3 linked regions of the Homo sapiens genome follow. The protein of the gene in region 1 interacts with the protein of each later gene in a biochemical or structural test. Each region holds a gene or a part of one and is shown in the gene's direction. Other genes may lie near its edges.

The links. Proteins that work in one complex are often made in the same cells at the same time.
Region 2: the proteins of REL (region 1) and DPF2 form a complex in vitro, tested with the Homo sapiens proteins (one study listed by BioGRID).
Region 3: the proteins of REL (region 1) and SRF form a complex in vitro, tested with the Homo sapiens proteins (one study listed by BioGRID).

The regions. Positions count from the first base shown.
Region 1 is NC_000002.12:60,911,460-60,919,667, forward strand, and holds part of REL (proto-oncogene c-Rel), read left to right. Parts: intron 1-5,417; coding exon 5,418-5,558; intron 5,559-6,731; coding exon 6,732-6,836; intron 6,837-6,934; coding exon 6,935-7,147; intron 7,148-8,208. UniProt on the Homo sapiens protein: Proto-oncogene that may play a role in differentiation and lymphopoiesis.
Region 2 is NC_000011.10:65,336,852-65,344,455, forward strand, and holds part of DPF2 (zinc finger protein ubi-d4), read left to right. Parts: intron 1-3,533; coding exon 3,534-3,694; intron 3,695-4,114; coding exon 4,115-4,222; intron 4,223-4,547; coding exon 4,548-4,711; intron 4,712-6,893; coding exon 6,894-6,986; intron 6,987-7,139; coding exon 7,140-7,218; intron 7,219-7,604. UniProt on the Homo sapiens protein: Plays an active role in transcriptional regulation by binding modified histones H3 and H4. Is a negative regulator of myeloid differentiation of hematopoietic progenitor cells. Might also have a role in the development and maturation of lymphoid cells.
Region 3 is NC_000006.12:43,167,194-43,174,872, forward strand, and holds the start of SRF (serum response factor), read left to right. Parts: upstream 1-4,075; 5' UTR 4,076-4,463; coding exon 4,464-4,976; intron 4,977-5,202; exon of another isoform or gene 5,203-5,271; coding exon of another isoform or gene 5,272-5,385; intron 5,386-6,653; coding exon 6,654-6,920; intron 6,921-7,679. UniProt on the Homo sapiens protein: SRF is a transcription factor that binds to the serum response element (SRE), a short sequence of dyad symmetry located 300 bp to the 5' of the site of transcription initiation of some genes (such as FOS).

The DNA.
Region 1 (8,208 bases):
TTTAAAAGGGTTAGTGGATGTAAAATTAATATATAAAGGTCAGTCATATTTCCATATCTCAGCAGCAAATAACTGGAAAACATCATTAAAACAAATATTGTCAGGAGATATGAAGTATGTAGAAACAAATCAAAGAAATGATAAGATTTCTTTAGGGAAAATTATAAAATTTTATTATGAGATCTTAGAGAATACTTAAATAAATGGAGAGGTATTCCGTGTTCTCTAATAGTAATATTGTAAAAATGTCATTTTCCCAGGCCGGGCGTGGTAGCTCACACCTGTAATCCCAGCACTTTGGGAGGCCGAGGCGGGCGGATCACAAGGTCAAGAGGTTGAGACCATCCTGGCCAAGATGATGAAACCCCATCTCTACTTAAAATACAAAATTAGCTGGGCGTGGTGGCACAGGCCTGTAGTCCCAGCTACTCGGGAGGCTGAGGCAGGAGAATCACTTGAACCCGGGAGGCGGAGGTTGCAGTGAGCTGAGATCGTGCCACTGCACTCCAGCCTGGGCAAAGAGCAAGACTGTCTCAAAAAAAAAAAAAAAAAAAAAAAAAGTCATTTTCCCCCAATTGATAAGTAGATTCAATGCAACTCCATATTAAATGTGATAATTCTAAACAGGAACAGAATATAGAAAAAGAACAATGAGGAGAAATTGACCTCATCAGATAGAAGTATTAATACTAATTAAGGCAGTGTCATATTGGGATAAGAATAGATAGATTGACTCATTGGAGTAGAATTGAGAGCCCAGAAGAGACTCCAATCACCTGTGACCCTGAACTGGAATAATTGGGTAAATCATTATCTTAACTTGTTTTTATTAATCTTTCTTAAATGTATGTATAGCTCAGATTTATTTCAATATTTAATATTGCAAGCGTTTTGGTCTTATAAATTTAGTGATGTTTTTGTGACCCATAGTCTGCCGTAGAAACTTAACTCTTATTAATATTGATTAGCCTATGGTAAAATTGGTTTTATTATGGTGTTGTTTCGCTTGAAGTTGCAATTTCCAAGAACCTATAGACATCATCCTAGAAGACATTAAGTGAAGACTTACTGTGTATATAAGCAGATTTGAAATTAAAAATATAAAAGATCTTCTGAAGTTGCAACAGTGCTCAGAAGTATTATAAAATAGAAATAAATCATTTCCAAAAGAGAGATTTCATTTTTGCCCAAAATCTTTCTTCTAAGCTATAAAAGACAAAACTGTTCAATACACAGTTTTGTCAATTTAAATCTACATATTCACCCAATTTTTATAAGATAAAATAAAAATGTATAATTATTGAAAAAAGAATTGAGAGCCCAGAAACAGAGCTAAGGAAATATGCGACTTTAGTGTATGACAGAGGTGGCATGTCATATCAAGAGGAAAGGAGGAAATGTTTGAGAAATGAAGCTTGAAAAAAAAATAGTTATTTAATTAAGTCGGATTCCCTACCTCACATCATATACAAATATCAGCTGAAGATGGATTAAAGGCTTTAAAAGTGAATCAACATTTTAAAAACTTTTGGTAGACTATGTTGGTAAACATTTTAATCCTTGAGGTATAAAAAGACAAGACACAAAGTGTTTTCTATAAAACTTTTGATAAATTTGATTATATTCTTAATTTCAATTTATTATATTTTTCAGTTCTAGAATTTGATTCCTTTTTTTCAGTTTCAAGTTCTCCAGTAAACTCTCAATCTTAATTCCTTGAATATATTAAGTATAGTTACTTTAAATTATATGTCTGAAAACTTCATTATTTGGATCCTTTGTGGTATGTTTTTATTGCCTGTTGCTTTCTTTTAAAAAAAAATTTTTTATTTTGCCTCCTCATATGTGTGGTTATTTAAGATAAAATACCAGTCATTTTCTGTGAAAAAGAGTAAAGATTTTAGGCCTACAATATTATCTCCCTGCAGAAAATTTTCTTCTGGCTAGTGGCCGGGTACACTAGCAATCCCAGGTCACCTAAAATCAGTGAATGATTTAGGTTATTTGAAGTTGGGCTTTCATCCCTGAAATCTGATATGTTTCCAGTTCACCCTTACTCCTAGGGTATAGCTCTTTCAGACCTCAAATCCCCCAAAGCCTTGGGTATTTATCAGATCCCACATCCTTGGCAAACTCTCAACTCCTTTATTTTTTCCCTATAGTTTATTGAGAGTTCATCTCAATCTTCTTAACCATCTCTTAGAAAATTGTCAGGCTATATTCAGATAAAAGTGGCCTCTCATTCTGAACTGTGGGTTTTCTTCTCTCATATCTTGGTCGCATGGTTTTTCATGACCTTGTTAGCTCTCTAATGTCATTAGAGAAATTTTGTTTCATATTTTGTCCACTTTATTCTCATGGTTGAATTGGTCCAGTTTACAGATTATCATCTATCATTACCAAAGTAGAACTTCTTTTTATTAACGTTTACTTTATGCTTTCTTCAGTAACTTGTAAAAGTATCTAAATGTTTGGTTGTTCAATAGGACTTTAAGTAATTCTTCAGTCATTTATGTTAATTGAGAAAATGTATAATAAATATCACTACTAGGTTCAACACCTAGTGGAGATACATCAGACATCCCTTCTGACTTCATTTGAAACTTTGTCTAATAGGATAGAAGAGGCATACATAAATGATTATCATGTAAGATTTTAAAACTTTTAAGGGCATAAGAAAGGTATAGGTCAAGTCTTGCACTGATTTAGAGAGGAGAAATATTCCCTCCATTGCAGAGGATGAAGTTAGGCTTTATAGAAAAGAAGCTTTGAGCTGGGGTTTCAGCCTTACACTGAATCTTGCATTGGGTAAAAACGGGTATCTGTCATGATTCTTGCCTGTCAGTAGTTTTTAACCATGTTGTGCAGAGATGAAAGTAATTCTGATGCAGTAGTAATTGTATTTCCACACATTGAGAAGATTCAAAGCAAAATCTCATAAACAGTGATTTTTTTTGAGAAGTAAGTAGAATTTCTTCCCTGTAGTAGAACTATTATGTGACTAAATGTTTTTGAACTTTGGCTTATTGACCAGTTTGTTTATTTTTCTTTTATGTGCCATTTAAAAATATTTAAAATAAACTTTTATTGAGATACAATAAAATCTACCCGAATATGTCCTGCTACATAACCACAATCAAGCTATGGAACATTTCCATCACCCCCTAAAATTTCCCTGGTCCCCTTCTCGCTCAGTTCCCTACCCTGCCTCTGCCTCAGGCAATTACTAATCTGCCTTCTGTCACTGGAGATTAATCTTTTCTAAAACTGCATGTAAATGGAAGCATACAGTATACTTTTGTATCTGGTTTCTTTTGCTCAACATGGTTTTGAGATACATTCATTTGGGAGTGTATACCCATAGCTTGTTTTTTTGTTTTTTTTTTTTTTTTGAGATGGAGTCTTGCTCTGTCGCCCAGGCTGGAGTGCAGTGGCACAATTTCGGCTCACTGCAAGCTCTGCCTCTCGGGTTCACCATTCTCCTGCCTCAGCCTCCCAAGTAGCTGGGATTATAGGCGCCCGCCACCACGCCTGGCTAATTTTTTGTATTTTTAGTAGAGGCGGGGTTTCACCGTGTTAGCCAGGATGGTCTCGATCTCCCAACCTCATGATCCACCCACCTCGGCCTCCCAAAGTGCTGGGATTACAGGTGTGAGCCACCACGCCTGGCCAGTTTGTTCTCTTTTATTGCTGAGTTTATTCCATTGTAGGTCTATACCACACTTTGTTTATCCATTCACAGAGTTCACATAGGTTTGTTTTTAAACTTACCAGGAACATCTAGCTACAAATTTATCTTTTTTGCATATTGATTACTCATCTTTGCAATTGAGAGACACTAATATCTTGAATGCTACATTTATAATGCTGTAAAAATGGATTTTGAAGAGGTAGCTCTCATATTGCCTACACAATAGTGCCAGTAGAGTATGCTGCTGTAACACAAGTGTTGGTATCATAACATTTTGACCTTTCAGTTGTACAGAGTACAGATGTGTTTTTATGCACTGTTTCAAAGATTAAGCATAAGAATGCTAATACTGGGATACTTATAAATGTTGTGATAGCTAAGTAGACTCTCAATGTCATTAAATAAAAACAGTACAAAATACATTATCAGTTTTATTAGTTATTGCCTGTAAAATAAGGAATTTGGGCTTAACTATGTTTCTAAATTTAGTGTTTCAAAATTTAATACTTTGCAAAGTAAAATTGTTATGTAAATAATGTGCATGTCTTGCTTTTTAAAAATATGACTTATTGCTATAGCTTATGGCATTTGAAAAGGCAATATTTTCTTTTGGAACTGGATTTCTGGTTCAAATACTAATTTAACAAACTATTATACTATATTCTATCATGAGCTTTTCTAGTTTTATAGAACTGTAAAATTTTTAATTAAAACATTTTTTAAGTTTGCACGTAAAATTTCTTATGGAAACTAGCTATCTTAACATTTTTTTGTTTCTTGGTATTTCATCCTTAAAATGTTGATCCACATTTAGTAGATACTCTTGTGTATGTCATTTTTATGTACAACACATGTACAATTTTCTAATAGATTTCAATTTTTAAAAGCATAGGCTCTAAATTTAATGACTTGAGTTCACATTTCCACCCTGTCACTGTGAAACTTTGGGCAAGTAATTCATCTCTTTACAGTCAGTTCCAGGCCAGGCTCAGTGGCTCACGCCCATAATCCCAACACTTTGGGAGGCCAAGGTGGGTGGATCACTTGAGCCTGGGAGTTTGAGACCACCCTGGGCAACATAGTGAAACCCCATCTCTACAAAAAAATAGAAAAATTAGCTGGGCGTGGTGGCATGTGCCTGTAGTCCCAGCTACTCAGGAGGCTGAGATGGGAAGATCACTTGAGCCTGGGAGGCGGAGGTTGAGGTGAACCAAAATCGCATCACTGCACTCCAGCCTGGGCAACAGAGTGAGACCCCCATGTCAAAAAAACGAACTAAACTCAGTTCCTCGTTTGTAAAATGGGGATGAAAGTAATTCTTGTACAGATTTAGGAGATAATTTACAGAGTCCTTAACACAACAACTGGACCAAATACATACTTGTTGAATGAATGGGTAAATGCCATTCTTTGTTGTGTACAAACCTGCAACTATTTTTTAAAACTTTGATTTGTTATTAATGTCAACTTGGGATTTTGCTTTAAATCCCAGGTGAGGGGATAGTTACTTCCTGAACATGGCTATAATTTATCAAATACTGTTAGATAGTGATTACTTGATAAGAATGATAAAAGGCATTCTTGAGATTGTATACTGTTCTATTTTTATTCATACATATTTGGATGCTATTCAAGGTTATTGGCTATAATGGGCAGGGAGGAGGACCTAGCAAGTCTTTAGGTCTATGTGACTATTACATTTAAAAAATTTTTTTTTTCTATTCAGTCCCTGAAAAACAGCTGAATGATATTGAAGATTGTGACCTCAATGTGGTGAGACTGTGTTTTCAAGTTTTTCTCCCTGATGAACATGGTAATTTGACGACTGCTCTTCCTCCTGTTGTCTCGAACCCAATTTATGACAACCGTAAGTACTTCATTTTCTTATATTTGTAGTCTTAACTTGTTTTTTGTAATAGTTTAATTCTTAAAATTATTTTGGTAATTAGGAAAACAATATATTCATGATAGGAAAACTTCCAGACATTAGAGAAATATATAACAGAAAGGAAATCTTCTCTAATCTCATCCTCCAGAGATAATCACTATCCTTAGGTGCATATTTTACCAGTTTCTTCTTCCTGTATATACACAGATACATTGTCATCATCATCATTTTTGACACAGTACAATTTTGGCAACTTAAAATCATAAGTGATGATTGTTTTAAAAACTAACTTTCTTCTTACCATATATCTTGGACATTTTCCTTTTAATCACCTTATTCTTTTCAGTAGCAGCATATTTTATTATGTAGTTATATCATAATTTTATTAATTACCCTCTTACAAGGCATTTGGTTTGTTTCTTTTCTCATTTTTTCTTTTTGGCCTAGCAAACTGTACTGCAATACATATTCTTGTATATTTTTTTTTATTGGTTTTTTTTTTTTTTTTGGAGACAGGGTCTCACTCTGTCACCCAGGCTGGAGTGCAGTGGTGCAGTCATGGCTCACTGCATGGCAAATGCTGGCTCAAAGGATATGGATATATCTCATTTTGAAAGATTATGAAACTTTCCCCCAAAATACTGTGTGTGTGTGTGTGTGTGTGTGTGTGTGTGTGTACGTGTGTGTGTGTGTACATAGACTTAGATATACGTCCACCAATGGTGTATGATATACCTGTTTTATGTGTAGAAGGATAGAGAGACTTAGGGCTATAAAGGAAGCATGAAAGTTGTATTGCCATAGGGAGATGTATTGCCATAGGGAAAATTGTATTGCCATGGGGATGTGGTCATGATTTATGAAGATTAATCTGGTGACAGTGGGTAGGATTGATTGGCGGAATCAGAATTTAGAAGCAGGGAGATGTAATTAGAGAATATGTCATTACCTAGAAATGAAGCCACAAAGTCTAAAGTAAAGCAGTTAGAAAGGAAGTGGACAGATAAATAGATGATTAATGTATTTAGTGTCATTTATCTATACACTAAAACTTTTATTCTGTGAATGCTTTTCCTCAAATTCTTCCCTGCAAAAAGAAATAAAATATTACTAAGGTAGCAACTCATTTTTTTGAAAATCCTTTATATTTAGGTGCTCCAAATACTGCAGAATTAAGGATTTGTCGTGTAAACAAGAATTGTGGAAGTGTCAGAGGAGGAGATGAAATATTTCTACTTTGTGACAAAGTTCAGAAAGGTATTTATTTATTTCATTGAATTTAGAATAAATTTTAGATTAATAGATGCAGTTACTTTGTTTTCCCATTTTTTTTTTTTTGGTTTCTTATTGACTAGATGACATAGAAGTTCGTTTTGTGTTGAACGATTGGGAAGCAAAAGGCATCTTTTCACAAGCTGATGTACACCGTCAAGTAGCCATTGTTTTCAAAACTCCACCATATTGCAAAGCTATCACAGAACCCGTAACAGTAAAAATGCAGTTGCGGAGACCTTCTGACCAGGAAGTTAGTGAATCTATGGATTTTAGATATCTGCCAGATGAAAAAGGTATGACATTTTGCTGGTAATAATTTATATATTTCTTGAAGTGGTCCTGCTAATAACATCTTCTTGTAATATTCATTTGAGTACAGTTATGTATATTCATAATTTATGTTTCTTTTCCTGGAAGCTTTCTGTTGGTTTTTTCTTTATGCTCTTTGCATCTCTTTATTTGTTGGGTTGTTTTTTGTTTTGTTTTGTTTTGTTTTTGAGACAGAGTCTCACTGTCACCCAGGCTAGAGTGCAGTGGCGCAATCTTAGCTCACTGTAACCTCCTCCTCCCGGGTTCAAGCGATTCTTCTGCCTCAGCCTCCTGAGTAGCTGGGACTATAGGCACGTGCCACCACGCTGGGCTACTACTTTTGTATTTTTAGTAGAGACAGGGTTTCACCATGTTGGCTAGGCTGGTCTCTGCATCTCTTTCTTCAAGAAGAGGTTTGATTAGTATGGAATAATTTCAAAGTATCTAAACTGCTTACTAAAATTTCTATTTTATTTTTGAAGGTCTGTTTTAGTCTTTGTGCACTTACCACTCAGAGAGTAGTCTCTATATTGGTTTCTTATCAAACCTTATTGCATTAGTTGACATTATTGACTTGTGTGATAAGAAAACAAGATGAATATTTTAAACAGCTTGTTTTGGGTTTTTTTTGAGACAGGGTCTCACTCTGTCACTCAAGCTGGAGTACAGTGGCATGATCGTGGCTCACCAGAGCCTCAGCCTCCTGGGCTCAGGTGATCATCCCACCTCAGCCTCGTGAGTACCTGGGACTATAGGTGCGCACCACCACACTTGGCTAATTTTTGTGGGGTTTTTTTGTTTTTTTGTTTTTTTGTTTTTGAGATGGAGTCTTGCTCTGTCTTGCCCAGGCTGGAGTACAGTGGCGCAATCCTGGCTCACTGCAGCTTCTGCCTCCTGGGTTCAAGCAATTCTCCTGTCTCAGCCTCCCAGGTAGCTGGGACTACAGGCATGCGCCACCACACCCGACTCATTTTGTATTTTTAGTAGAGATGGGGTTTCACCATGTTGGCCAGGCTGGTCTCAAACTCCTGACCTCAGGTGATTC
Region 2 (7,604 bases), on another chromosome or scaffold:
AGGCTGAGGCGGGCGGATCACAAGGTCAGGAGTTTGAGACCAGCCTGGCCAAGGTGGTGAAACCCGTCTCTAGTAAAAATACAAAAATTAGCTGGGCATGGTGGCGTGCACCTGTAGTCCCAGCTACTCAGGAGGCTGAGGCAGAAGAATCGCTTGAACCCAGGAGAGATCACACCACTGCACTCCAGCCCAGGCGACAGAGCGAGACTCCGTCTCAAAAAAAGAGAGAAAGTCTTTAAGCGTTCTTACTAGGAAAGTAAAATAATAGTATAGCTGTAGCTGCTGATTGGTTTTGAAACTTTCTAGGCAAAATCTAGAGGCAGGGCGCGGTGGCTTACACCTGTAATCCCAGAACTTTGGAAGGCCGAGGTGGGCGGATCATGAGGTCAGGAGTTCGAGACCAGCTTGGCCAACATGGTGAAACCCTGTCTCTACTAAGAATACAAAAATTAGCTGGGCGTGGTGGCGCATGCCACTCGGGAGCCTGAGGCAAGAGAATCGTTGGAACCCGGGAGGCAGAAGCTGCAGTAGGCAGAAGCTGCAGTGAGCCGAGATTGCACCACTGCATTCTAACCTGGGCGGCAAAGCAAGACTCTATCTCAAAAAAAAAAAAAAAAAAAAAAATATATATATATATATATATATATATATATAGAGAGAGAGAGAGAGAGAGAGAGAGAGAGAGAGAGAGAGAGAACAATGTTAATGTTAACTTGACATTTCTTGGTATCGGAGCCTTAAGTTTTTGTTATTGCTTTTTTTTGTTTTAAGAGACAGAGCCTCCCTCTGTCCCCCAGGCTGAAGTGCAGTGGTATAACCTTGGTTTACTGCACCCTCAACTTCCTAGGCTCAAATGATTCCCCTACCTCATCCGCCCCAGGGGCTACGTGGAACCACAGGCATGCATCACTAAGCCTAGCTGATGGTTTTTTTGTTTGTTTGTTTTGTTTTTTTTAATTTTATTTTTTTTGAGACAGAGTTTCGCTCTTGTTGCCCAGGCTGGAGTGCAATGGCGCAATCTCGGCTCACCGCAACCTCCGCCTCCCAGGTTCAAGCAATTCTTCTGCCTCAGCCTCCCCCGTAGCTGGGATTATGGTCATGTACCACCACGCCCGGCTAATTTTGTATTTTTAGTAGAGACAGGGTTTCTCCATGTTGAGGCTGGTCTCGAACTCCTGACCTCAGGTGATCCGTCCACCTCAGTCTCCCAAAGTGCTGGGATTACAGGCGTGAGCCACTGCGCCAGGCCTTTTTTATTTTTATTTTTTAACGTTTTGTAGAGATGGGATCTCACTATGTTGCCCAAGCTGGTCTCTAACTCTTGGTCTCAAGAGATCCACCAGCCTTGGCCTCCCAAAGTGCTGGGATTATAAGCATGAGCTACTGTGCCCGGCCTCCCTTAAGTTCTTAAGAGCTCACTGTCATGCTGTCTTGTTCTCTCTTCATGAGATTCTCCCCCCACACTTCAGTGTTTCCTTCCCAGCCCTTTTACCCCCAAGACTGTTTGCCTGCCTTATGTAGCTCACAAGAGCCCTGACAGAACATCTCTCATTCATTCCCCGCAAAACTGTTTCCAGCCTCCTTGCTCTGACTTTGCAGCACTCGCCAGCCTGGCCCTGCCTTCCATTTGACTTCCAGTGTCCGTATCAATTCCCATCAGCAGAAACAAAGGAGCTGCCGCACTCAACCTTGTTTATCCAATTTTATTCTGTGTGGTGAAGACGTGGCTGCCTCCTAAAGGCGAGCCCACAGAGGCAAGGCTGCCTTCTCCATTCTGCTCTCCAACGTGAGATTCGTGCCTACCTCAGATTACAGTCATTACAGCTCATTGAATCACGCCAGGCTATATTTGTGGCATTGCCGTCTCTGTGTGTCGTATGTGTCTTTTTTACTTGCTGGGCACATGCTAAGTTATGCAGTGGTCTATTGTGGCTGCTCACTGAAGGACCCTGTCACATTCTAGAGCAGGGTTTGTTGGTGTAGCCCGAGTTACGGACAGAAACCACAGAGACTTAATCTGTTTGCTGTCTCATCCCCAGGCTGTTTCTTGTAAAATCCTGATATGTCAAAGCTCATTTGGTCCAACCTCCTCAATCTATAGAAGAGTAACCAAGGTCCACCTGGGCTGACTAAGTGTCCATGTTCGTGTGACTTGCAGGCAAGCCAGGTCTTTTTACTCTCAAGTCAAGTCTGACTGTATCTCAGACATCGTCATGAGTATTAGGGATACTATGAGAAATAAATCAATTCTGCCCTTGGTTTAAGATTGATTGACGCCAGGTACTGTGACACATGCCTCTATTCCCAGATACTTGGGAGGCTAAGGCAGGAGGATCACTTGAGCCAGGAGTTTGTGTCCAGCTTGGGCAACATAGTGAGACCTTGTCTCTTAAAAAAAAAAAAAAACAAGATTGATTGAATATAAGATCGAGTTTGTTAACCTCCATTACCAAAGTCCTTGTTAAACCCTGCAAGATGAGAACAAGATAGGTTCTATATACACGCTTCTTAGAACCAGATAACTCCTGGCACTGTGCAGTTTTCCAGTTTTCCACTTAAAGATTTACCCTTGATTCAGATTTCAAATTGAGTCTTTTGAGACCAAGAAGATTTTTTCCTATATAATTTTATTTTGTGAGAATGGAGAAGAACCCTAAGATGGGCCTTAGAGCAAACAAGTTTCTTATGAGTGATGGTGCTCAATAAAAGCTTCAAGGAACTTCAGGTACTTGTAGACATCTTCCATAAATGTAAAATTAATTAGTTGATTAAAAACCTAGTTCAAAATTCAAAAGATATAAAAAGGCATATGGAAGGAAGTGGCCTAGTCACCCACTTTTTCTCCCCGCTGACCTGCAGTTTCTTTTCCATTTTGTTACATAAATGATAGTTTTATTTGACGCTTCTCAGCAGTGTACCTTGCTTTGCTTTTTGTCCCTAGTTAACTTGAAATTGTTTAATATCAGTATGTGAAGAGCTTCCTTCTTATGGCTAAGTAGAATTTCATTGTATGGATTTACCATAGTTTGCTAAATACATTTTAATAAGTCCCCTAGACTTTGAACTCTTTCCCTCTGGAGCAGACCTTGGGGCAAGGATGTGGGAGCATGTAGTTTATTTGGGAGGTGATTCTAGGAAAGAGGGAATAAGGAGGAACTTAGGAGGGACTATCATCTGCTTCTTAGCCTCATAAGGGTTAAGAGAAATAGCATCTTAACTAGCACAGGGGTGGGCTTGTGAGACACGTGGAGTGAACATTCTTTCACCTCTTTGGGGGTTAAACTTAAGTCTGATTAGACATATGATGAAATCATGTGTTCCTGATGGTAATTTATTTGTAAAGTAATTCCTCATGATGGCCTAGAAAAGGGGCTTCGTGTCCCATGAGGCAGAAGTGGAGGCAAATAGAACGGAAGAGACAGCCACCCAGTCCCTTGAGCCTTCTAGAGAAGCAGATGGCAGGGGAGAGGAATAGCTCAGCACCCTATGCCCCCCGCTCCAACATACACGCCTGATTTCTATCTTCCCTGCAGCCTTGGGGAGCAGTACTACAAAGATGCCATGGAGCAGTGCCACAATTACAATGCTCGCCTCTGTGCTGAGCGCAGCGTGCGCCTGCCTTTCTTGGACTCACAGACCGGAGTAGCCCAGAGCAATTGTTACATCTGGATGGAAAAGCGACACCGGGGTCCAGGTGAGGGTCCAGACTTGGGAGAAGGGGACTCAGGAGCATAAGGAGGAAGAAGCCTCCTCATCTTAGGTGATGAGACAGTTGATAGGGTTTTCCCTACTGCCTTCCACCTATGGATGAATATGGTCTTCCTGTGATTAGAAACCCAGGGAGGATGAAGCAGATGTTTGATACCAGCATCTTTGTTTTCTGCCCTGCTGAGGCCATTGTGTGTCTGGAGAACTATGTGTTAGCCAAGGCCCTGAAGCTTATATATCTATTTTTCTTTTCCACAGACTATTCCACCTAACCCCCTAGGCCCTCACTGTCAGAATTTCTCCCTTGCTCTAGAACTCAAAGGGGGGCCTACTTAATTAGAAAGTGTTTGGTATTACTTTCTAATACTGGGTTAGGGCCTGACTTCTATCTTTCTTCCTGCCACAGGATTGGCCTCCGGACAGCTGTACTCCTACCCTGCCCGGCGCTGGCGGAAAAAGCGGCGAGCCCATCCCCCTGAGGATCCACGACTTTCCTTCCCATCTATTAAGCCAGGTAAGGCACATACTTCCTGAGCAGAGGCGTGGCCTGCTGCATGGTGAGAGCCTGCTAATCACTGTGATATACCAGGCCCAGTACTAGATCCCAAATATACTCAAATGAATATGATGTGATTCTTTCCTTTAAGGACCTCAGTCTAGAAGGGGAGACAGGTAAACAGATAAGTTATGGTGCCAAGTGAACTAGGGTGTCTTAATTCCTGGGCGTGCAGAGAACAAAAGATAGTGACAGACCTTTGGTAAGCCCCAGCATTATGTGGACTCAGAGCAGTCTGCTTTCAGCCCTTTTGAGCCTTGCTTTATCCTGACCTTGCTTGCAGACACAGACCAGACCCTGAAGAAGGAGGGGCTGATCTCTCAGGATGGCAGTAGTTTAGAGGCTCTGTTGCGCACTGACCCCCTGGAGAAGCGAGGTGCCCCGGATCCCCGAGTTGATGATGACAGCCTGGGCGAGTTTCCTGTGACCAACAGTCGAGCGCGAAAGGTACAGGATTATCCCTGTGGCTAAGGGAGCTTTGATGGAAATCAGCCTCCTCTTCACTGGGGGCCACCTAGTTTCTAGAACTGAAACAGAAGCTGGAGTCCAGGAAGCAGGCCCCTGCAGTTCTGTTCTTACTTCAGTCCCTGATTATTGTCAGGTACTGACTGGCTTCTCTGTTGCTTCTAACTATAGACTCTCATTCATTCACTTTTATCACAGAAGGTTATTATTATACACATATATAATTTTCATTAAAAAAATTAAAATAGGCCAGATGCAGTGGCTCATGCCTGTAATCCCAGCACTTTGGGAGGCCAAGGCAGGAGGATTGCTCAAGTCCAGGAGTTCGAGACCAGCCTGGGCAACAAAGTGAGACCCCATCTCTACAAAAAAATAATAATTAAAAAAAAATAGCCAGGCATAGCAGCATGCGCCTGTTGTCCCAGCTACTAGGGAAGCTGAGGTGGGAGAATCACTTGAGCCTATGAGTTCGAGACTGCAATGAGTCATGATCATGCCACTGCACTCCAGCCTGGGCAACAAAAAAAAAAAATTAAAACCAGAAGGTGCAAGAATAGTACAATGAAATACCACATACTCTTTACCTAGATTTATCAATTCCACATTTTGCCACATTTGCCTTATCTGTCTTTGCTAAACTATTTGAGAGGAAACTTCAAAAACTTTTCAGTCTAGGCAACATAGCAGGACCTTGTCTCTACTAAAAATAAAAATAAAAAATTAGCTGGGCATGGTGGCACACGCCTGCAGTCCCAGCTACTCAGGAGGCTGAGGTGGGAGGATTGCTTGAGCCCAGGAGATTGAAGCTGTAGCTCTGCTTATGCCTCTGCACTCCAGCCTGGGTAACAGAGGGAGACCCTGTCTGGGAAGGGAGGGAAACAAACTTTTATCCCTAAGTGCTTTACTCTTTTATCACAAAAGTTTGTGTCACAGTTTTTTGGTCCCTGAGGTTACACAGTGAAGCACACTTAGTCTCTGCCAACAGAGAAGATAAGAATACATGTAAAAATAACAGCTATAAATATGCCAGCATTGGGTTAAGTGCCTTTTCATGCCCTTTCTCCTTTAGTCTGTACAACCTTATGGGGTAGGTCCTGTGTTCCCCATTTCACACAGAGGCTGAAACAAAGCAGTTTAAAAACTTCCCATGGGTCGGGCACGGTAGCTCACGCCTGTAATCCCAGCACTTTGGGAGGCCGAGGCAGGCGGATCTTGAGGTCAGGAGATCGAGACCATCCTGGCTAACATGGTGAAACCCCGTCTCTACTAAAAATACAAAAAAAATTAGCCAGGCGTGGTGGTGGGCACCTGCAGTCCCAGCTACTCAGGCGCAAACCCGGGAGGCAGAGCTTGCAGTGAGCCGAGATTGCGCCACTGCACTCCAGCCTAGGTGACAGAACGAGACTCCATCTCAAAAAAAAAAAAAAAACTTCCCATGGCCGGCCACGGTGGCTGACGCCTGTAATCCCAGCACTTTGGGAGGCCGAGGCAGTTGGATCACCTGAGGTCGGGAGTTCGAGACCAGCCTGACCAAGATGAAGAAACCCCGTCTCTACTAAAAATCCAAAATTAATCAGGTGTGGTGGCGCATGCCTGTAATTCCACCTACTTGGGAGGCTGAGGCAGGAGGATCGCTTGAACCCAGGAGACGGAGGTTGCGGTAAGCCAGTATTGCGCCATTGCACTCCAGCCTGGGCAACAAGAGCGAAACTCTGTCTCAAAAAAAAAAAAAAAAAAAAAAAGCTTCCCACAAGGTCACACAAATAAGCAACAACATTTTAATTTAAACTAGGAGGCGAGTGTCAGGACAGAACCACCAATAATGTGCTCCCAGGGTGGCCAATCAGAGGCAGGAGAGGGCATGGCTGCTTGTGGCATCAGGGCAACCTTTTGGAAGCATGCTATTTGATTTGGCCATGTGGCATGGTGGGGAAAGCATTTCAGGCTAAGGAAATAACGTGAAGCACAGGGGAAAGATATCCCAAAGTATGGAAGGGAGCAGGAGCAGGATTATAGCATGCTTGAAAGGCGTTGGTGAGGAATGAGGCTGGTGTGGGTGGGACCACGTCACAGAGGAGGTTCTGGGTGGCCTTGGCCAGTCTCATCATAGGGGAGCTTTTGGATGCACATATTTCTACCCATGCTAACCCTCCTGTCCACTCAGCGGATCCTAGAACCAGATGACTTCCTGGATGACCTCGATGATGAAGACTATGAAGAAGATACTCCCAAGCGTCGGGGAAAGGGGAAATCCAAGGTGAGGGGCCAGCGTGCTGCCTGCATCTTGGGACAGGGTGGCCTAGGGAATTCCTTATTTTATTTCAAGTGAGATTAGCGGCCACTTCCAAAAGAGTCTAACTCCTCAGGCCCAGCTACCAAAATAAGGGTGTCTCTTTGCTCTTCTTGGCAGGGTAAGGGTGTGGGCAGTGCCCGTAAGAAGCTGGATGCTTCCATCCTGGAGGACCGGGATAAGCCCTATGCCTGTGACAGTGAGTGCCTCACAAGTGGGTGGGTAGACCTTGCCTTGGACCCAGCTCCTGCTCTGGATATGAGAGGAGGGAGGGTTGTGTTTTTGCCCAGAGTATTAAAACAAACCTGGGCTCTTGTCCTGCCTGCTGACTGCTTCCGTCTGAGACCCCTGGGAGGCCTGGGTCCCTGCTATATGACGGGTGGGACCTGCATGCTCTGGGAAAGATTTCTGCCATCCTCTGGGGTAGGGTTGCTTGTGGGGGCCACAGCAGGCAGGGTTGGCCTCTCAACAGATGGCCTGCAGGTCTCCTGGCCTCAGTTAAGCCAGGGCCCCAGGGGTCTGACACTGAGTTTTTCAACGTCTGTTCTCTTTTTCTTTCTGTCTGCCTTGCCCCACTTCTGTCCC
Region 3 (7,679 bases), on another chromosome or scaffold:
TTTTGCCATGTTGGCCAGGCTGGTCTTGAACTCCTGACCTCAGGTGATCCACCCTCCTAGGCCTCCCAAAGTGCTAGGATTACAGGCATGACCCACCTTGCCTGCCTGTGTTTTTTTTTTTTAAGAGATGGGGTCTCATTGTGTTGTCCAGGCTGGTGTCAAAACTCCCGGACTCAAATTATCCTCCCACCTTGACCTCAAAAAGTGCTGGGATTTTAGGTGTGAATCACTGCACCCAGCCATGACAGTAATTTTTAAAAGCAATCCTTAATTTTTGTTTGTTATTAGTTAGGTGATAAAAATCAGAAGAAAGAAAGAAAGGTCAGGGTGGAATCTGTGTGGTGTGAGGGATCTGGCTGAAATTCCCATGCACTTACAGAGGCCCTTCATGGTCTGGGGTGGACATGAGCTCCCATCTGTTGCAAGGTGCTACTCTGATCAGGCCTTTTCGGAGGAACATTTCAACTTCACATTTCAGAGCAGCCAGGCAGGAGCTTACCTAGGCTCAGTAGGCTGCGTGGAGTCTATGGTAAAGTGGAGAGCCTCTTCTATGGCCACCATCAGCTCCAGGTTATAATGCTTTTGTGGGTACCTAGGCCCAGTGTTACCAAAAATTCTGATTTTTTTGAGAGAGGTCAGATATTCAGATTTTTTTTTTTTTTTGAAAAGGAGTCTCACTCCGTAGCTCAGGCCGGAGTACAGTGGCCCCATTTAGGCTCACTGCAACCTCTGCCTCCCAGGTTCAAGTGATTCTCCTGCCTCAGCCTCTCGTGTAGCTGGGATTACAGATGTGTGCCACTATGCCCGGCTACTTTTTTATTTTTTTAGTAGAGATGGCGTTTCACCATGTTGGCCAGGCTGGTCTTGAACTCCTGACCTCAAGTGATCCATCCACCTTAGCTTCCCAAAGTGCTGGGATTACAGACATGAGCCACCACGCCCGGCCAGACATTCAGATTTTTATGTAAACTCTTATGATTTTTAAATGTTATAAGGTCCAAATAAAACACCTCTATGAGACAGTTTTTGATTTTGACTTTATCCCTAGCAATACTTTTGGCTCTGGAACCTGCAGTAATCCAATAGTGTGGGTAGAGGTCTCCTCCTGACTCCCTGTGGTGACAAAGGACATGAAGATGGGCCATCCCAAGCAGACAGAGAAGCTGTGACACTAACACTGGTGTGCAATGACCCAGGAGTTGGGAGAAGTTGAAGAGAGGGCAGCCTATTTGAAGGGAAGCTAAGGACTGCGTTCTTCCCAGACACCCTCCCCTATAGATGTGACAGAGAGCAGTTGTCCCTGCTGAGGGATGTCACCCCTGCATGTGTCTAAACTAGGGGGCGCAAATGAAAGGGTCTTTAGAGGGCAGGTGGGAATGAAATCCCAGAGCTTTGGCTGTAATATTATGGTGCTCAGACAAAACATGACCCCAGGCATCATTTGTGGTCCCTAAAACCCTTCTGGAACCTATTTATCTGTTTGACCTGTTCTTCCTCTTGGGCTAACACGTTCCATATGTTTAAGTACCTGTTGTAAAGAGTAAATTAGTGGAGGGAGGGGAGACCTCTTTAAAACTATTGGGGGCTGGGTGCAGTGGCTCAGGCCTTTAATCCCAGCACTTTGGGAGGCCGAGGTGAGAGAATCGCTTGAGCCCAGAAGTTTGAGACCAGCCTGGGCAACATAGGGAGACCTTATCTCTATATGACAAAAAATACACACTATATTTTATTCACTATACACACAAAATACACACTATATTTTACTGATCACTTGCACATATTTTATTTCAGTATTTTTCAAGCTTTTGGATTGTGACTCACAGTAAGAAATGCAGTTAATATTGTCATCCATTACACACATACACTGAATTATGAGAAATTGACAATATCCCACCTTCTTGACCTATAAAATGGCAATTTTGTAGGGTTCAACCTATATATAATGCAAACAAACATTTTATGCAACAATATTTGCCCTTGCTTTTTGTGATACCCATTAATTTATTCTTTTAAATGTTGATTGTAGTATACTGAATTGATATCACTACCACTACCAGTAATGACTAGGTTACAATCAACTGCTTTATTTAATCTCCATAATTTTTCGGGCAGGAATAATCACTGCCTCCCATCCCCTTAAACATGCCAAGATGCTTTATCCCTAGGATGAGGTGACTTACTCCAGGTAACTCCTATTGCCTAACCACTGACCAATTACTCTGCCCTTTAGTCTTTATGTCATTAAATCTGCATTAAGAATTTCATGGAATAGGCCCGGCATGGTGGCTCATGCCTGTAATCCCAGCACCTTGGGAGACCGAGGTGGGAGGATCACTTGAGGTCAGCAGTTCGAGACCAGCCTGGACAACATGGCGAAACCCCATCTCTACTAAAAACACAAAATAACTAGCCAGGTGTGGTGGTGGGCACCTGTAATCCCAGCTATTTGGGAAGCTGAGGCAGCAGGAGAATCGCTTGAACTGGGGAGGCAGAGGTTGCAGTGAGTCGAGATCGTGCCAGTGCACTCCAGCCTGGGCGACAGAGCGAGACTCTGTCTCAAAAAAAAAAAAAAAAAAAACTCAGGGAATGGATAGCAGCATTGATGAATATTGCGTCTGGAGAGATCAGATCACTTGTCACTTGTTTCCAGGCACAGGGCTTACCAAGAGGCAGATTCCAGATTTAAATAATTCTGTAACAGCAAAGTCCAAGCTATTTTCACTGCTTTGGAGAAAAGACCCAGACCCAGAGCTTGAACCTCACTTTGCAGCACCCCAGTTCTAATCTTTTAAGTTTTTTTTTTTTTTTTTTTTTTTTTCTGCTGGGCACGGTGGTTCATGCCTATAATCCCAGCACTTTGGGAAGCCGAGGGGGAAGGATCGCTTGAGGCCAGGAGTTCGAAACCAGTCTGGGCAACATGGCAAAACCCCATCTCTACAAAAAATACAAAAATTAGGCCAGAGTGGTGGCGCGCACCTGTAGTTCCAGCTACGTGAGAGGCGGAGGTGGGAGAATCGCTTGAACCCGGGAGGCAGAGGTTGCAATGAGCTCAGATCCCGCCACTGCACTCCAGGTTGGGCGACAGAGCGATACCCTGTGTGAAACTTTTTTTTTTTTCTCCAACGGGCTTTCCAGAGAAGTGTGTGTATGTGCGTGTGTGTGCGCGAGCGTGCTTGCTTGGGCTTAAACTTTCTGTCGGGCCACACTTTCCCAAGTCTTTGCACTGGCTGTAGGGTGGGCTTTATCCTCGGGACGTCCTCCTCCCCAAGTCCAGCCTGCAGCTGGAAGTCTTCACTGATCTCCATCTCTCCTCCCTGATCTCCGTCTCTCCTCCCTGCCCGCCTCAGGACTGGGAGGCCGATCTCTCTCTCTCGCCCTCCCCTCCACCAGCCTTTTCCAGATGTATGTCTGCCAAAGACCCCCCAGTGCAGAGGATGATGAATGAAGATCCTCGAGCCAGCCCGGTGGGAAAGTTTCGTCGCCTACAAAAGCGAGGGAAAGGGAAGGGAAGTTGGGGGTAGGGGAAAAGTTAGAGCTGAGAGGCTGGGGCGCGACGAGTCTGGACACCGGGCGGGGACCCAAGCTCTCTCCGCTCAGCCAATAACTGTGCCTCCCTTAGGAAGGCGTGAGGAAATGCTCCAATCAATCCCTGCACTCCTCCCTTGGAATTTGGGCTGTATTTTTTTATTTACTGCAAACCCCACAATCCACCCAGGGGTTTCCCCAGTGTTTGCCTCCAGCGGTCCCGGTGCCCATTTACTAGTGCTGCTCCCTCTCTTCCGCAAGACTGCGCTCCAGTCCCAGCCTCCTTCTCCGCGGGTGCCTCCCAAACCGTTCTATCATTCTCGGGTTCAGGGAGGCGGAATCGTGCCTGCTCTCCGGTTCCTTTAAGAGGCGTCGGCTCCACCCCTCTCAGAGTCGCGGTCTGACGCGAGATGACAGCAACGAGTTCGGTATGTCTATGCAAATAAGCGCCCTCTTGTGGGCCAATGGGGAGCGGAGGTGCCGGAACCACGGACCAATGGGGCGGGGGCGCTGGGGCTCACCATATAAGGAGCGGCCTCGCCATAAAAGGAAACATTGTATCTCTTTATATGGGGGGAAGGGTCGGGGGATCCCTCCGCCGCCAGCGCGTGGTCCCGGCCCCCTCCACCCGCCGTCTCGGCCGCGGCCAGCAGCCCCTGCCCCCCGGGGGACGCTGACGGCCGCCCGGCGCGCCGCCCTAGCAGACGGACAGGGGGCGCTGCGCGCGGCCTGGGGCAACCCGGGCCACAGGGGCAGGAAAGTGAGGGCCCAGGTCGGCCCGGGCGTGCAGGGGCCCCGGGTTCGCAGCGGCGGCCGCGGCAGCGATAGCGGCACTAGCAGCAGCGGGAGTGCCGGGTTGAGCCGGGAAGCCGATGGCGGCGGCTGCGGCGGCTCCGATTCCTCGCTGACTGCCCGTCCGCCCTCCTGCATCGAGCGCCATGTTACCGACCCAAGCTGGGGCCGCGGCGGCTCTGGGCCGGGGCTCGGCCCTGGGGGGCAGCCTGAACCGGACCCCGACGGGGCGGCCGGGCGGCGGCGGCGGGACACGCGGGGCTAACGGGGGCCGGGTCCCCGGGAATGGCGCGGGGCTCGGGCCCGGCCGCCTGGAGCGGGAGGCTGCGGCAGCGGCGGCAACCACCCCGGCGCCCACCGCGGGGGCCCTCTACAGCGGCAGCGAGGGCGACTCGGAGTCGGGCGAGGAGGAGGAGCTGGGCGCCGAGCGGCGCGGCCTGAAGCGGAGCCTGAGCGAGATGGAGATCGGTATGGTGGTCGGTGGGCCCGAGGCGTCGGCAGCGGCCACCGGGGGCTACGGGCCGGTGAGCGGCGCGGTGAGCGGGGCCAAGCCGGGTAAGAAGACCCGGGGCCGCGTGAAGATCAAGATGGAGTTCATCGACAACAAGCTGCGGCGCTACACGACCTTCAGCAAGAGGAAGACGGGCATCATGAAGAAGGTACCAAGCCGGGGGGCTGGCCGGCCCCGGGGCCCGGTTGGGGTGGGGATGTGCAAAGGGAGCCCGGGAGGACCGCAGAGCCGAGGCGGAGGTGAGAGGCTGCGAGTCCGCAGGAGGTGTGTGGGAGGGGATGGCTCCTGCCCGGGGAGGGCCGAAGGGGAGGGGCCGCCGGGGAAATGTGGGGAGAGGGGAGATCCCGCGAACGCTCGCAACCGTGGGGAAAGGCGCAGAGGTGGGAGTGACCGGCGCCAGAGAGGAAGAGGGCCCTTGCTGAGTGAAGGGGTGAGGAGCGGTGATGGGAGGCTACGAGGCTGCCGGGGAGGTGGATAATGAGAACCCGGGATCAGTAGGTCCAGTGCACTCCGGTGTTCGGACGAGGGCGCCGGAAAAGCAGGGAGCAAACGAGAAGGTATGGAGGTGAGGAGGCTGGAGCTGCATGACAACAATGAGCGAACATGTGTGGGAGGAAGTGGGCACCACGAGAGTAGTGCTGGTTGGAAGGACAGGCAGGGTTAGGGACCAGGTAAGGGAGCGGGGCAGGAGAACTGGTGCTGCCCTGAGCAGCAGGAACCTAGTCCTGCGCCGGCCGTGAGTCTTCCATGGCATCCACTGGGAACCACATGCTCCTGGCAGGACCCGCTGCAGAATCTCCTGCCGTTAGGACAAGTGGGGTTTCCAGCCCTAGGGAGAATCTATGCTTGGATGGGGTTTGGGGGAAGTCAGGGAGGCTTGCAGAGGTACCTAGGAATTCCTCTTCTGCCAGCCAGTGAAAAGTGTTGAGGAAAGGAGTCATTTTGGGGTGTAGACGATAAGGGAAGAGATGAAAGCAGAGGAACTGGGAGACAAGGAGCTGGATCCTTGGGAACACTGGCTGGTGTTTATTTCTGTCCCATGTAGAAACCAGAGCTGCTTCCAAGGTGGTTTGCAGAACTTTGTTGGGAGAGTATGGCATCTATGGGGCCATCCTTGAAGGTCCCCTTCCTGGGCTCATGGCAGGATGTTTAGTGCTAATCTAGGTCTCGTCTCCCATCACTCCAGACACTGTTGTATCAGTGTCCCTTGTCACTTGATCATCAGTGGAGAAGATTGTGGGGGGAGGTAATTAAGGAAAACTCTCTTCTCTCCTTCCATAACCTTCTTCCCAAGACAAAGGAGTAAGGGCAGTAAAGTATTACAGGGCAAAAGGAGAAACTAGGCTGTGGCAACAAGTTGGAGCCTGTGCAGTTTCTGGAAAGAAACATGGGACAGTTGGAGCTTAAATGGTCCATTATCACTAATGTCTTGTACAAATTCCAGTGTGATAGGTAGGGATCCATCCTGGTCCCTGTGACAGTGAGAAGGGGTGAGGCTCTGGGACATTCCAGGCACTAAGCTGTGTTGGGGAGCAGCTAGCTGGGTCCTTCGTATCCCCTGAAGTTATATGTTCCATCACTGGGGGCTGTTACTGTTTGCTTGGGGTATCTTCAGGTCAATGGGGCTGCTCCTCAAAGGAGGAGCATGGGTAGTTTTGCTGCTTCCAGAGATCCTGATAGGACACCCTGCCCTCAGAGTCATTAGAGACGAAGGTCATTATGGGAATGGGGGAATGACATCACTGTATAATTCTTTTTCCAACTTCTCAAGGAAGGTAGAGATAAAAAGTTTGCTGACCTGCCCATCTCCCTCCTCACCCCTCAGGCCTATGAGCTGTCCACGCTGACAGGGACACAGGTGCTGTTGCTGGTGGCCAGTGAGACAGGCCATGTGTATACCTTTGCCACCCGAAAACTGCAGCCCATGATCACCAGTGAGACCGGCAAGGCACTGATTCAGACCTGCCTCAACTCGCCAGACTCTCCACCCCGTTCAGACCCCACAACAGACCAGAGAATGAGTGCCACTGGCTTTGAAGAGACAGATCTCACCTACCAGGTGTCGGAGTCTGACAGCAGTGGGGAGACCAAGGTGTGTTTGGGTTGCCTATGTGAGAGGAGGGAAGGGAGTGGGGTCCCTCTCCCTTTCTGGCCCAGGACAGGTGGATAGGTGCCCACCGATGTGGAGTGGAGCCGGATTAACGACCCTCGTCCTAGGGGACAGGTGTCCATCCTCACTTTCCTGATAGAAGACCGCCCCCCTAGATAAGCGGGCGGCCTCCGTGCCCATATAAGGCCGGCTTGGGCTCCACGCCGGCCTCCCGCCCGCAGCCCGCCTGCCTGGCAGGGCCTTTGCATTCCTCCCGCCAGCTGTCTCCCCGCTAGGGGCGGGGGTGTAGTTTAGCCCGGCCCTCCGGGCTGGGTCGCCAGGGAGTAGAAAGGGAGCACTCCGGTCCCGGGGTCCTGGGAATCCAGCACTCTTGGCAGGCGGGCTGGTTGACTGGGCCGGGGACTACCTTACAAGCCAGCCGCTGCCCTTTCAGGGTGTTGGGGGCCTGGGCAGTTAGGGAGCGCATTTGCCTGCTGCTAGGGATGCCTGCGCTGTTACTCCTCCCCCTTCCTTTTCCCGGTAAGGAGAGGGGGTGGGGCTTCCTCCCTTGCTGTCTGGGGAGCTCCACCTTCCGGGTGGCACTTAACTGACTGGCCAATGGGAGGAAGCGGCACTGTTTGCCTTAGCAACGCCTCTGCCAATCAAGGGTCTTGGGCCCAGCTGCTTTGCAAACGTCTCGTGCTGACCCACCCCGCAGCCTTTGAGCCTCTGGTTGACTCATTTCGGGTCTGGGCTTGGTGG